4 linked regions of the Homo sapiens genome follow. The protein of the gene in region 4 interacts with the protein of the main gene of each other region in a biochemical or structural test. Each region holds a gene or a part of one and is shown on either strand. Other genes may lie near its edges.

Region 1 (3,279 bases), on a different chromosome or scaffold from region 4:
AAAAGTTATGAATTCAGTTCCTCAGCCATACTAGCCACATCACCGATGTTCAATAACCACATATGTCCAGTGGCTATTGGACACTGTCATATTGGACAGTGCAGACAGAGAAATTTCCTTCTCTGCAGAACGTTCTACCTGACAGCACTGCTCTGGAGCTTCAACCCCATCCTTGGCCTTCCTGTTCTTATCCTTCTTGACTTAGAACTAAACTCTTTCAAATTTTTATAGTCTCCCTTCCACCATCCTGGTTCCTTAGGCTATCTATTTCTGTCTCTACCTTTTTTTTTTTTTTTTTTAAGAGATAGGGTCTTGCTTTGTTGCCCAGGTTGGAGTGCAGTGGTACAACTGCAGCCTCCAACTCTGGGGCTCAAGCGATCCTCCTGCCTCAGCCTCTTGAATCACTGGAACTACAGGCATGTGCCACCATGGCCAGCTAGTTAAAAAAAAATATATATATATATATATACACACACACACACACACACACACACACACATATTTATATATGCACATATATATGTATGTGTGTATATATGTATATAGACATACATATATGTGTGTGTGTGCACGTATATATATATATATATATACACACACACATATATGTGTATATATGGCCAGGTGCACTGGCTCACACCTGTCATCTCAGCACTTCGGGAGGCCAAGGCAGGTGGACCACCTGAGGTTAGGAGTTCAAGACCAGCCTGGCCAACATGGCGAAAACCCATCTCTACTAAAAATACAAAAATTAGCTGGGTATGGTGGTGCGTGCCTGTAATCCCAGCTACTCAGTAGGCTGAAGCAGGATAATCACTTGAACCCAGGAGGTGGAGGTTGCGGTGAGCTGAGATCTCACCACTGCACTCCAGCCTGGGCAACAGCGGGACTCCATCTCAAAAAAACAAACAAACAAAAAACCACATATTTAAGCTTTTATTTCTTAATTTCCCCTTCACCAAATAGAGTTACAATATTTTATATTTTAACCTTTTAATTCCATTTTTCCATGATTTCCATGAATTCTTTGAAGTTCTCTCACATTTTATTTAAAATTTTTGTGGCTTTTAGTGGTAGAGTAGTCTGCTATAATGCTGAAAATAGAAGATGTCTTTTATCTTAGTCTTCATCTTAACACAGCATTGATCATTTACTCAAGATATCTCCATTTGTTGTCTCTTTTTGTTCCCGAGATGGAGTCTTGCTCTGTCACCCAGGCTGGAGTGCAGTGGCATGATCTCGGCTCACTGCAACCTCCGTCTCCTGGGTTCAAGCAATTCTGCCTCAGCCTCCCAAGTAGCTGGGACTACAGGCATGCACCACCATGCCTGGCTAATTTTTATATTTTTAGTAGAGATGGGGTTTCACCATGTTGGCCAGGCTGGTCTCGAACTCCTGACCTTGTGATCCACCCACCTCGGCCTCCCAAAGTGCTGGGATTACAGGTGTGAGCCACCGCGCCCGGCCACTTGTTCTTTTTTTTAAAGGGACAAGGTCTTGCTCTGTCGCCCAGGCTGGAGGGCAGTGGTGTGATCATAGCTCACTGCACCCTTGACCTCCTGGGCTCAAGTGATCTTCCTGCCTCACCCTCCCAAGTCAGTGGGGCTTCAGGCTCATGCCATCATGCCTGGCTAATTTTAATTTTTTTTTGGTAAACACGAGGTCTTGCTATGTCGCCCATGATGAGTCTCGAACTCCTGGGCTCAAAAGACCCTCCTGTCTCGGCTTCCCAAAGCACTGGAATTACAGGCGTGAACTACCACGTCCATCCCTCGTTTGTTCTTATTCGTGTCAGTTGTCTATCTTTTACTTCACTGAAGGTCTTGGGTTGGGCCTGGGTTTTGTGTTGGAACTTCCTTTCTCTAAACCTTAGTTTTTTTTTTCACCCATTAATGGGCTACATGATTGCTGAGATGTCTTCTAGGTGCTGACCATGGGTCTGTGATTTTATACATGTATTTGTACTTCTTGTCCTTTGACGCATCCTGTCTGTAATCTCTCTCTGTAATACTCTAGATTGGGGGGCAGAATGAGGGAGGGCAGCTCTGGAGCTAGAGGGACCTGACCTCTAGGGCGTGGAGCTCTGGACTTTCTCTGACCTGACCCAAACGTTGGCTGTTCCCTAGGTACCATCTGCCTCATTCAAGAAATGGTTTGCCCTTGCTGGCACTTGTTGTCCACTTCCCAGAGTATGGAGGAGGACCACGGGAGCCTGTACCTGGACAATCTGGAGAGTTTGGGAGGAGAACCGAGCTCAGTACAAAAGGAGACACAGGTGACAGCAGAAACAGTCATCTAGCCCAGGACATGGCTTCTTTACCCTTCTTCAAGCCATGTGAGTGTACACATGTAGCTGTTTGTAGTCCTCCCCACCCTCTCTGCCAGTATCTGTGCCTTTGAGGAGCTTCTTGCGTGTCAGATCAACTCTCCACCTCCCCATACTCACAGTGATTCTATCTTGCTTGTATGTGAAATTTGCTAAAAGTCCTTTCAACTCTTCTGAGCTTCCTAAGTGACGTTTTTGCAGGTATTTTCAATAAAAAGAAGGGCTACTTTGTTCATCCATATCTCAAAAACCAAGTCCGCAGGGCAGGAGGGGAGGGAGGAATATTACAAGATAACCAAGTGAAATGGGATTTTGTGAAACAGAAACCGTACAGAATACAGAATATACTCGGGGGAATGACAACTATTTGGGCTGGTGGCACAGGGGTAAAAGAATTTACCAAGACGGTTGTAGATAAAGAAAGGCAGATTTATTAAAGGAAGTATAAAAGTACATTGCCGGGCTGGGCGTGGTGGCTCGTGCCTATAATCCCAGCACTTTGGGAGGCCGAGGCGGGTGGATCACCTGAGGTCAGGAGTTCAAGACCAGCTTTATCAACATGGAGAAACCCCGTCTCTACTAAAAATACAAAATTAGCCGGGTGTAGTGGTGCATGCCTGCAATCCCAGCTACTCGGGAGGCTGAGGCAGGAGAACTGCTTGAACCCAGGAGGTGGAGGTTGCAGTGAGCCGAGATCACGCCATTGCACTCCAGCCTGGGAAACAAGAGCAAAACTCCGTCTCAAAAAAAAAAAAAGTACATTGCCAGGGAGCAACAGGCAGGACCAGCAGAAGAGGAGCTGACTGAAAGGAAACAAAGACTTGTTGGAGATTTGATGGCATAGTGTTTATGCTGTATGCTGAAGAGGGCTTTGTGCAGTACTGATAATGCCAGTGTTGCAGTGAGCTAACTTGCAGGTGTCTGGTGATAGCTTGGGCGCAGGAAGATTGTGA
Region 2 (3,500 bases), on a different chromosome or scaffold from region 4:
CTCTGAAGTTGTTATCATGGAAGGTTCAAAATTACAAGTGTATGGTGCACACAGAGATATGAAGAGACACACACACACACAGAGAGAGAGAGAGAGAGAGAGAGAGAGAGAGACAGAGACACAGAGAGAGAGAGATCAGCCAGTGATTCTGAATAGAAAATGAAGTTAGGTAATGAGGAGGGATTAAAGAGTAAAGTCTCTGAGGAGGAACAAGGGCATGGTTCCTGGAATAAATGAATGTATCAGTATTAGTTAAAAATGACACATTTTCCTTGTGACAGATACTAAATGTTTGTAGGTTTGTAGATGGTTTGGAGGCCAAACCGTAAAGAAATTCTTATTTGCATGGAGGTATTTTTTCTTTTACCTTTCTTCTTCTGTGTCATAGAAGCCAAGTTCAGTGGTGAGAGTGAGGTAAGAGATGGAAAGAGAATTTTGAGAAAATGAAGAATATTTGAAATAGCCTCTCTTGATGATAATTACAAAGAGAACTTACAAAAGAAATATAAAAGTGTGTGGTGCTTTATATATAATGAGAAATATAAAATGATTGTTGATTGTGTTTTTGTAATATCTTAGATTGAGGTTTTTTTGGACACAGAGTCTTTTTCTGTTGCCCAGGCTGTTCTCAAACTCCTGGCTCAAGCAATTCTTCCACCTCAGCCTCTGGAATAGGTAGTATTATAGACATATGCCACCACAGTAGGCTAATATCTTACTTTTTAAAAAATTCACAACTTAGAACTGTTGTCCTGTATACCTAGTCATACCTAGTTTGTAAAATGCAGCATGTTTGAAATTTTCTTTAAACTTTTAATAAAAATTTAAATGCATTGGTATTTATCATTATTTTTTATTTTAGAAATAAATTAATGATATTTCAAATTTGTTTATACTTACCCATGCTGGCAATTATGCTATGTACAGGTAATCTGGAAGGTCCATGATAAAACGACCTGGACACATTGCTTTTTCTCTGCTGGTCTTGGTTTTTAAATGCTGAATTCTCTTCTTTGGTAATATTAATATAAAAGCATATGTCTGTAGAATTCATAATGTATCGAGGACCTGGATTCAGCAAAATGTTTTTATTATCCTCCCTCCTAACACCAATCAAGCAGACGCCAAACCTTAATTTAAAAAAAAAGAGAGTTTGTAAGAAAATTAGTAAATTATTGTAAGGCTGAGGAAAATAAAAGCTTTAAATAATAGCATTTTAAAGCTTGAAATGATCCTAGAAGTTCAAGATCCTCATTTTTACAGGAAAATAAACTATGTGCTTAGTGTGTTGTAAAACCAATTTAGCTGATTATGACCACTATAAATTTACATTTTAATGAAAATGAATGGAAGAACATAAGAAACATGAGTGCATGTATACACTAAGGGTAACATTATTTTGCGAATTTTTACAACAATTTTACTTTGGTCAAAAAACATAAACAGCATATCTTACTTTGGTTAAAAAAAATAAATAAAAAGCTTAAAACTATTGGCCAAAGGAAAGAAACTTACCCATGGTCACCTGAAAGAGAACCAGGGTCCCTGAATTTATCACAGTTGGTTTACTTTAAATTTTAGAAAAAATATATATATTTAAATAGTCTTAAATAGGTATGTACTTAGTCAGAAAAAAAAAGTAAAGTAGAATACAGAAGCTCCTTGACTTATAATAGAGTTATGTCCTGATAAACCCAGCATAAGTTGAAAATATTGTTAAATAAAAAATGCTTTTAATACAGCTAGCCTAACAAATATCATAGTTTTAACCTAGCCAACCTTAAACATACTCATAACACTTACATTGCCTACAGTTGGGCAAAATCATCTAATACCAAGCCTGTTTTATAATAAAGTGTTAAATATCTTATGTAATTTATTGAATATTCTACTGAAAGTGAAAAATAAAATGATTGTATGGATACTGGAAGTATGGTTTCTACTGAATGGCTATTGTTTTGTACCATCATGGTAAAAAAATAGTAAGTCAAAGCATCATAAGTTGGGGGTTCCTGTACATTACATAATAGATTAGTTAGTAGACTATATACGTATATTGTAAATCCTCCAAAATGTGTCACATTAAAACATTTAATACAGATAATATGTTATTTTCATTATATACATACATTTTTACTTCTTAAGTAAATCCTTTTTTTTTCCAAAAAGGAAAAGAAAAAAAAAGTTCTATGTTTGAATTGGAAGGTAGTTTTATTTATTTTTTAACTTATTTCTCAGGCCAAAACAAGGGCCACCATCAGAGATTTTTTTTTCAAATGTACAGTTTTTAGAAATATTAGTGTTACTTTGTTTTAGTTCCTAATCAACATCTTAAAATTCAGATCTGTGAAGAAGATTTTCATATGTATGTAAATTCTTAATGGATTAAAATATTTTAAAAAGACTTTAAAAGTGGCTAAATGAAATATTCCTACTAAATTATAATTTACTCCTGACTGTCTTATAGAGACCATACAGACACCAGGGTTCAAATGTTTCAACATTGGGGAATATTGTGACAAAAATTCCGGAATGCCTAAACACATGAACACAATATGCATTCTATTTTTGAAAACTATTTTCACATGATATGCTTGACTGATTGATATTTTAATTTTTCTCTGAGGCAGAAACATACTTTTTGTGTGCATGGAAAGAGGCATATGTAAAACTCTTTCCTTCATATTCAGCAAAAAATGTACTTTCTTCCAAAACAATGTGGTAGACTTCATTCCCGGAGCATCTACCGTACATCTTCTGCCATTGTTCTGGCGATTGCTGGCCTTCTCTGCAACACAGGCACACACACATACACACACACAAAAAGAAAACACAGTGAATGTGGTTAAAAAACAGTTGTTATAGAACTGTTTCTCAACTGTGTAAGAACTGGCAAGCACAATCCAAAGGAGCATCTGAGTAATGCTTTGAAGTCTGAAGATGACATTATATGCAAGAGTTTCTAAAAAATTTTGAATACTATATATATATATATATATATATATATGTATATATATATATATGCTTGAGAAATGACAGTTTTGTAGAAAGTGGGAGTTTTCCAAGATCCAGCTAATGAAAAGCTTTACTCTCACAATGAATCAATGAGATACAGGATTTTAGTCTCTCTTTATATACATATCCTATCATGTATATCTTCTAAAATTTGTTGTACAGTCTCCATAATATGGCCAACGTTATCTTACCTATGATACCTGCGTGGCTGCTGTAGGTATTTTATTTTGCTTTATACTTAAAATTACAAATTTATCTCAATTTATCTTTGATTTTATAGAAAATATACCTTTAGTTTTTGTTCATATCGTAGCAATAACTTTCTTCCAATTGTATAGCAGTCACGAAAAGACACTTTTCTTATTTTAAATGTAAGGATCTCTCCAACTAACTGAATATTCTTGTAACCACAAAATTCATGTTGGAATCCTAATCCCATTATGATGGTATTTGGGAGTGTGGCCTTTGAGAGGCAATTAGGTTAT
Region 3 (3,500 bases), on a different chromosome or scaffold from region 4:
GCGGCGGCCCCGGGTGAGCAGGCAGATCTCTGCACGTGGCGCGCAGGGGGGGGTTGCTGGACGAGGCGGGCGCCGCGGCCCTCCCCGCCCAGGCACACGGCCCGGCCTCTGCACCTTGGCCAGCGTGGGCGCTTCCCACCCAGGCTCTCCCTGGTGCCGGCCCCGGCCCCATCCCCGGCCCCATCCCCGGCCCCATCCCCGGCCCCATCCCCATCCCCGGCCCCATCCCCATCCCCATCCCCGGCCCCATCCCCATCCCCATCCCCATCCCCGGCCCCATCCCCATCCCCATCCCCATCCCCGGCCCCGGCCCCGGCCCCGGCCCCCTGGCTCTGCACACCGCGGGGGTCGCGTGCCCCCTCCCCCTCCAGGCGCGCCCCCCTCAAGCTCACCCCCGAAGTAGGAGCCATCGGACAGCTTCATCTCCTTGTTGCCCTTAGTGAGCACGCTGACCACGCCGTGCTGGATGAAGTACATCTTCTTCCCGATGGTGCCTTCGCGGATGATGTAGTCACCCGGCTGGAAGACCTCGAACTTGAGCTTGGTCAGCATGGCCGTGACGAAGTTGGGGTCGGCGTTGGCGAACAGCGGCATGGAGGCCACCAGCTTCCGGCAGTTGAAGTTGACGATCTCCTGCAGGGGGGAGGCAGGGCTGGGTCCGCTGCGGACCCCACTCCCGCTTCCCCCTCGCCCTGCCTCTGGGACCGGCTCACCTCTCGGACCCCAGTTTCCTCGTCTGAGAGACGGGCTCAGCCCCGTAGCCGGAACCGAGCTGCTGCCGCCAAGGACGGGAGAAAGAAAAAACGCTCAGTGCCCCTTCGCCGTTTGACACCGTATTGGCGACATCTGCCAATACAATCGGACCAGGAGGGGCGGCTGTAGACAAGAGCGGTGGAAAGGAGGCCGGGTGCGGGGGCTCACGCGTGTGATCTCAGCATTTGCGGAGGCCGAGGCGGGAGGATCGCTTGAGCCCAGGAGTTCTAGACCAGCCTGGGCAACACGGTAAGACCCCCGTCTCTACCGGAAAAAAAAAAAACAGCCAGGCGTGGTGGTGCAGGAAGTCGAGGCTGCAGTGAGCCGTGATCCCCACACCACTGCCCTCCAGCCTGAGCGCAGAACAAGACCCTGACTCAAAAAAAAAAAAAAAGAAAATGGGGGAAAAATAAGGCCGGGCGTGGTGGCTCACACCTGTAATCCCAGCACTCTGGGAGGCCAAGGTGGGTGGATCGCCTGATGTCAGGAGTTCGAGACCAGCCTGGCCAACATGGTGAAACCCCATCTCTACTAAAAATACAAAAAATTAGCTGGGTGTGGTGGCGGGTGCCTGTAATCCCAGCTACTCGGGAGGCTGAGGCACGAGTCTCTTGAACCCGGGAGGAGGAGGTTACAGTGAACCAAGATCACACAACTGCACTGGAGCCCGGGTGACAGAGCGAGACTCCATCTCTCTCTCACACACACACACACACACACACACACACACACACCAGTGGAAAGCTACATTCGGTCAGACTATCAGGTGATTTTTGAAAAATCAACATGAAAACCAAGGGTCTGGAGATGAATCAATGGTGTGGGAAGTCAGGGCAATTCCCCTTAGCAAAGGCAGCTTCTAAGGACGGCAGGAACGTTCCAGCTTCGTTCTGTGTGGTGGTTACACCACGTTCCCTTTAGGGACCAGCTATCGAGCTGTGCCCTTATGACCTGGGGCACTTTTTGGTACTTTTTTTTTTTTTGAGACGGAGTCTCGCTCTGTTGTCCAGGCTGGAGTGCAGTGGCACAATCTCGGCTCACTGCAACCGCCGCCTCCTGGGTTCAAGCGATTCTCCTGTCTCAGCCTCCAGAGTAGCTGGGATTACAGGCGCCCACCACCACGCCCGGCTAATTTTGTATTTTTAGTGGAGACGGGGCTTCACCATGTTGGCCAGGCTGGTCTCGAACTCCTGACCTCAGGTGATCTGCCCGTCTCGGCCTCTGAAAGTGCTGGGATTACAGGCGTGAGCCACCACGCCTGGCCATATGTGGGTTTAAAGATTTGACTTTGCAACTCCTAAACACCTAAATAATGACTAAGTAGCGTGGGTTGCCAGGGGCTGGGGACGGGGAGTGAGCTGGTGACTAACACCCCAGGTCTCCTTTTGGGCCCATGAGAATGTTCTGGAGTGAGGCTGTGGTATCGGGTGCAGCACTCTGTTAATACTAAAAGCCACCGCATTTTATGCATTTTGTGGTCTGAGTGTTATATCTCTACAAATGAATGAATGGAAACCGTAGTCATCAAATGCAATTAAACATTCTTGGCGAAGCGAACCGCAGTGTGTGCCTCCTGGGAGCAACGGGTGTACACGCCCCCCCAGAGGCATTCCCGGGGCCCGAGGTCCCTAGTGTCAGGCCCGTCCTGCCCGCCTCCTCGCCCAGCTCCTCCAGCCCCTCCTCGGGGCCTCTGCCCGAGCCAGGTGCTACACCGGGGACACCCTGCCTGGCTCACACACGGCCTTGCTGATGTCGCCTCCCCGTCCTCGTCCCTCCCCGCTTCCCAGAGCTGCTCTCTGCTGCCTGCGTGATCACGGCCGCCATCCCTAGGCCCCGCTTCCTGAGGGTGGGACCTTCAAGCACACGGCAGGGCACGCAGTCGGCGCTCAATAACTGTTTGATGTGTGTTGTGGGTTGAACTACATCTCCCAGAAAGACAGGCTGACATCCTGACCCCCGGTTCCTGTGAATAGGACCTTATGTGGAAATAGGGTCTCTGCAGACATGGCCCAGTTAAGGCGAGGCCACGAGGAACCGGGTGGGCCCTGATCCAACGACGGATGAATTTACAAGAAGAGACAGAGACACACAGGGGAGAAGGCTGTGAGCAGATGGAGGCAGAGATCAGGGAGATCAATCTGCAAGCCAAGGGCGCCTGGAGCCCCAGACGCCGGAAGAGGCAGGAAGGATCCTCCCCAGGGGCTCCGGGGGGGTAGCACGGCCCGGCCCACGCCTTGATGTTGGGCTTCCGGCCTCCAGGACGGTGGGAGGCCGAATCTCCGCTGTTCAAGCCACTCAGCCTGTGGGTATTTGTTCCCGCAACCCTGGGAAACTTGCCCAGGGTCACTCAGGCTACCGGAACAGAGCTGGGAGTTAAACCCGCTCCAATCAGCCTCAGTGCCCCCAGGACCTGGTGCTCAGCGGGGCCTCTGCGGCTCCTCCCTCCCCACCCCCTGCCCTGCTTCTGCCCCGCCCTGTCAGGCACAGACCCAGGCAGTTCTGCTAAGGGGGCAGCGGGAAGCAAGGCGGGGGTGGCGGGGGTCCTGGGGGTGCAGAGGCTCACGGGGCGGGGAGGGGAGGGTGTGTACGCAGGTCTAGCTCGAGTCCCTCCTGCTGCAGCCTAGGCACCTCGCCTCCCTCAGGGACCGGCTCCTGGGCTCCAGGAGAGGGAGGCCGGCCCTGTACCGGAGGCTGCCTCCCGCCCGCCCGGCGCCCGCCTCACCTCCCGCAGGGGCCCGTTGAGCTCG
Region 4 (3,500 bases):
CCCTTATAAGAAAGCTCAAAGTCAACCACGTATTAAATTTATTATATATATATATATTCTTACTTTACACAATTATAATTACTGTTAATATACTTTGAAATTTTTTAAACTTTTCATACTGTTTTTAAATCTATACCTTATTTGATTTATATAATATATTCAGAGAAATTGCAAGTTCATACTCTGGGGCATAAGCCTCTATGTGACGCAATTGTGTGACCTAGCTCTAGAGTCCTCTACCAGAAAGTTAGACTCTGAAATTATCACTTGAAACATGCTTTGAAAAAGTCACAGTTATCTAAAGGTCAATAAAAAGCTTATCTCAAAACATTATTACATAGAAAAAAGTAAGTAGTAATTGGAATGCTGAAGTGATAGAAAATATTCATGGGTTGAGAATTTTGATATACATTAGAGGACAGCAGAGTTGAAGGAATAGTTTTGGGTTCTATGAAACTACTAGTCAGTCTAAAAATAAGAAACAAATGAATAAAATTCAAGATATGAATACAGAAGAATTTCATTCTACAGTTACCAATAAAATATCATGTTCCAATTACATTTGATTTTGGATATTGTGTCCCAAGCATAAATCAATCTGGCCACAAATAACTGAAATCGAGTTTATATATTAAAATCCTTAAGTTCTTAGAAAAAAGATCTTAGGTTAATCGAAAGGTAACATTGATAAGTTTCTGTTTATATTTCTGAAATGTATGCTTTTAGGTAATTTATGTTTAATATAAGTGGATGTTATAGGGAGAAAATGTTTGTTTCATAGGAAACAATTTCTTTAGCAACTCCTTATTACAAGTGGAAGTGGTGGCATCCAGAGAATATGTTATGAGAAAATGTATATTCATACTTTTACTTTAAAATGTTACATATTTTAATTTACTCTAATTTCATTTAAAAACGAAAGCATATATTATGAATAGGTAATTTAATCAAACTCTTTTTTGGAGGAAGGCTAATATGTTTTTATTATACTATAGCTGTAGATCTGGCTTCAAGAATTTTGAGGCCGGGCGCGATGGTTCACGCCTGTAATCCCAGCACTTTGGGAGGCCGAGGCAGGCGGATCACGAGATCAGGAGATTGAGACAATCCTGGCTAACATGGTGAAACCTCATCTCTACTAAAAATACAAAAATTAACCGGGCTTGGTGGCGGGCGCCTGTAGTCCCAGCTACTTGGGAGGCTGAGGCAGCAGAATGGTGTGAACCCGGGAGGCGGAGCTTGCAGTGAGCTGAGATGGCACCACTGCACTCCAGCCTGGGGGACAGTGTGAGATTCCATCTCAAAAAAAAAAAAAAAAAAAAATTTTGAGTGCATTAGCCTTTTTCATATGTGTTATTATTACATAAACATTAAAATTACCCTTCCTCTGTAATTAAAATGAAAAACCCACACACATTACAAAGTAAGGAGCTATATCTTTATTCTTAAAATGTATGTATTTGCTTATAGTAACTTAGGATAAAAAGTATCTTGAAATTACTGTATTCTTGTAAATGTTACTTGGAGTATTATGGGAAGAAAGTCAGCTAGTTGGATTAATTTCCTGGGATGTTTTTTCAACTCACTGATATTTATCATAACTGAACATAATGAAATGAGACATAAAAATTAGATTGCAGCTTTTATAGGTTTAATATCCATCAATGCTTAGAAAGCTGGTTAGACATAAAATGAATATTTATTCTAGGTTTTCAACGTTGACTTCAGTAATAGCAGGGGGCAAAAAAAAAGAATGTGCTTAAGGAGAAAATCTCTGGTTATTTTATAAACATACCACTCCGTTCACTGATAGCAGCTGGTCTCCTCTTTTGAGGCCTCCGTGTCTTTCAGCCACCCCTCCAGGAATTATGCGAGAGATATAAATGGGGGAATTTTGCTCCTTTCCTCCCATCACATTAAAACCAAGGCCTTCATCAGTCTTTGGCAGTTCAACTACTCGAGGGTGGGAGTGGCCTTCACTAGCTGCAAAAGCTGCAACTGTTGCCTGAAAAAAAAAAAAAAAGATGGTCTTTTGGTAATAAAATGAGGGAAATAAAGGCTAATCATATGCTTTGCAGTGGGTAGCTCAGGCAACTTCTCATATTTTTATAGTATTCTCCTGTGAAAGAAAGAACACAAAAAGCAGAGGACTTTCTTCATTTAGATGCCATCTAGGATTTCTTTCTTTGGTAAAGTCCCACTCATCTATTTCCAGCTTCCTAGGGCTTATCTGTTATGACAGAATTTTCCTGTCTTCATAAAAATCCTTTCCAGTTACCTTGGTTAGCTGCAATTCTTCCTATTCCTGGAGTCCAAATAACTTTGTTATATGTACTATCTACTATTATAATTATTTTATACATGTGTTGACTATGAGCACCTTAAGAGCAGAGATGGCGTCTTGCACTCTTTTGTATGACACAGAGTCTAATCTGGTGCTTGCACATAAAAGTTCATAAGTATTTTTTTAATAAATTGAAGAGCACTTGTATGTATACATACTTTTGAATACATATGTAATCTTGCTATTGCCAACCCAAAAGCTTAGCAAATTTAACTTTTTTAAAAAATTAAGGATGCCTTAAAGAGAATGAAAACTAAAATAAAATAATAGATTCAAACAGATTATTGTTAGCTTATACCAATATACCATATTATTATTCCATACTGAGAAATCTTATCTGGAACAGGATTTTTCTTCCTATATTATACATTAATATTTCAATTATTATAACAAAATAGGCAATATGAAGTCAATGATTTTATACCTAGATATACAAAACATCATTTAATATGGACATAATTTGTTTTAAAATTCATGTACTGATTTCATTAAATGAGTTCAAGAAAACAACTTACCATTAGTTCCCACTAACCCCATAGAAATAAAATAACAGCACTTAGGTAGTTTCTATCAAGAAATGATTCTGTGCCTGCTTATTTTTCACTTTTATTAATTCACCTTGATCACAGTTGATTAGATGCCTGCTATAAAGTGACTTACTCAACACTGTGAAAATATTTATTCCCAACGACTGTACCTTCTTTTCCACACACAGCATTATCACATCAATTTAGCATTATGCTACTGTCTGCATTTAGTGAAAGATAGTGAATGACATGAAAACAATGGCTTGTTTTTAGCTACATGCATTTGCTCATGCAAACCTCATTGTCATGCATAGATTTTAATGGCTGACATGGATGCAATGCAGACAGCCCAGAAACAACCAGAAAATACTGTGCTATTGCAACATTATGCTGCTATCCTGCTGTTCTACATGAATAAGAAATGAGAATGGTAAAACACTACACAATTCACTTTCCCCTTAATTAAACCACGTAGGGATCATTTTTCTGTGTGTGTTCCACTTCAGTACAAGCAAAGCATGACATGATGATAATAACACCCTCTTTTTTTCCCTGAGTTTAAACAAAACAAAACAAAACAAAAAAACCTTACAAATCTACAGTGTTCAGTTACAGAGTAAAAACTAAAA

What was found.
Region 1: the proteins of LIN7A (region 4) and TMEM225B interact in a test that uses a peptide from one of them, tested with the Homo sapiens proteins (one large-scale study listed by IntAct).
Region 2: the proteins of LIN7A (region 4) and KCNT2 interact in a test that uses a peptide from one of them, tested with the Homo sapiens proteins (one large-scale study listed by IntAct).
Region 3: the proteins of LIN7A (region 4) and HCN2 interact in a test that uses a peptide from one of them, tested with the Homo sapiens proteins (one large-scale study listed by IntAct).

What each region holds. Positions count from the first base shown.
Region 1 is NC_000007.14:99,608,267-99,611,545, forward strand, and holds the end of TMEM225B (transmembrane protein 225B), read left to right. Parts: intron 1-2,126; coding exon 2,127-2,299; 3' UTR 2,300-2,779; downstream 2,780-3,279.
Region 2 is NC_000001.11:196,339,441-196,342,940, forward strand, and holds part of KCNT2 (potassium channel subfamily T member 2), read right to left. Parts: intron 2,789-3,500; coding exon 2,639-2,788; intron 1,131-2,638; coding exon 901-1,130; intron 1-900. UniProt on the Homo sapiens protein: Sodium-activated and chloride-activated potassium channel. Produces rapidly activating outward rectifier K(+) currents. Contributes to regulate neuronal excitability.
Region 3 is NC_000019.10:610,381-613,880, reverse strand, and holds part of HCN2 (potassium/sodium hyperpolarization-activated cyclic nucleotide-gated channel 2), read right to left. Parts: coding exon 3,476-3,500; exon of another isoform or gene 2,727-3,475; intron 1,003-2,726; exon of another isoform or gene 634-1,002; coding exon 393-633; intron 30-392; coding exon 1-29. UniProt on the Homo sapiens protein: Hyperpolarization-activated ion channel that is permeable to sodium and potassium ions. Displays lower selectivity for K(+) over Na(+) ions. Contributes to the native pacemaker currents in heart (If) and in neurons (Ih).
Region 4 is NC_000012.12:80,843,935-80,847,434, forward strand, and holds part of LIN7A (protein lin-7 homolog A), read right to left. Parts: intron 2,006-3,500; coding exon 1,796-2,005; intron 1-1,795. UniProt on the Homo sapiens protein: Plays a role in establishing and maintaining the asymmetric distribution of channels and receptors at the plasma membrane of polarized cells.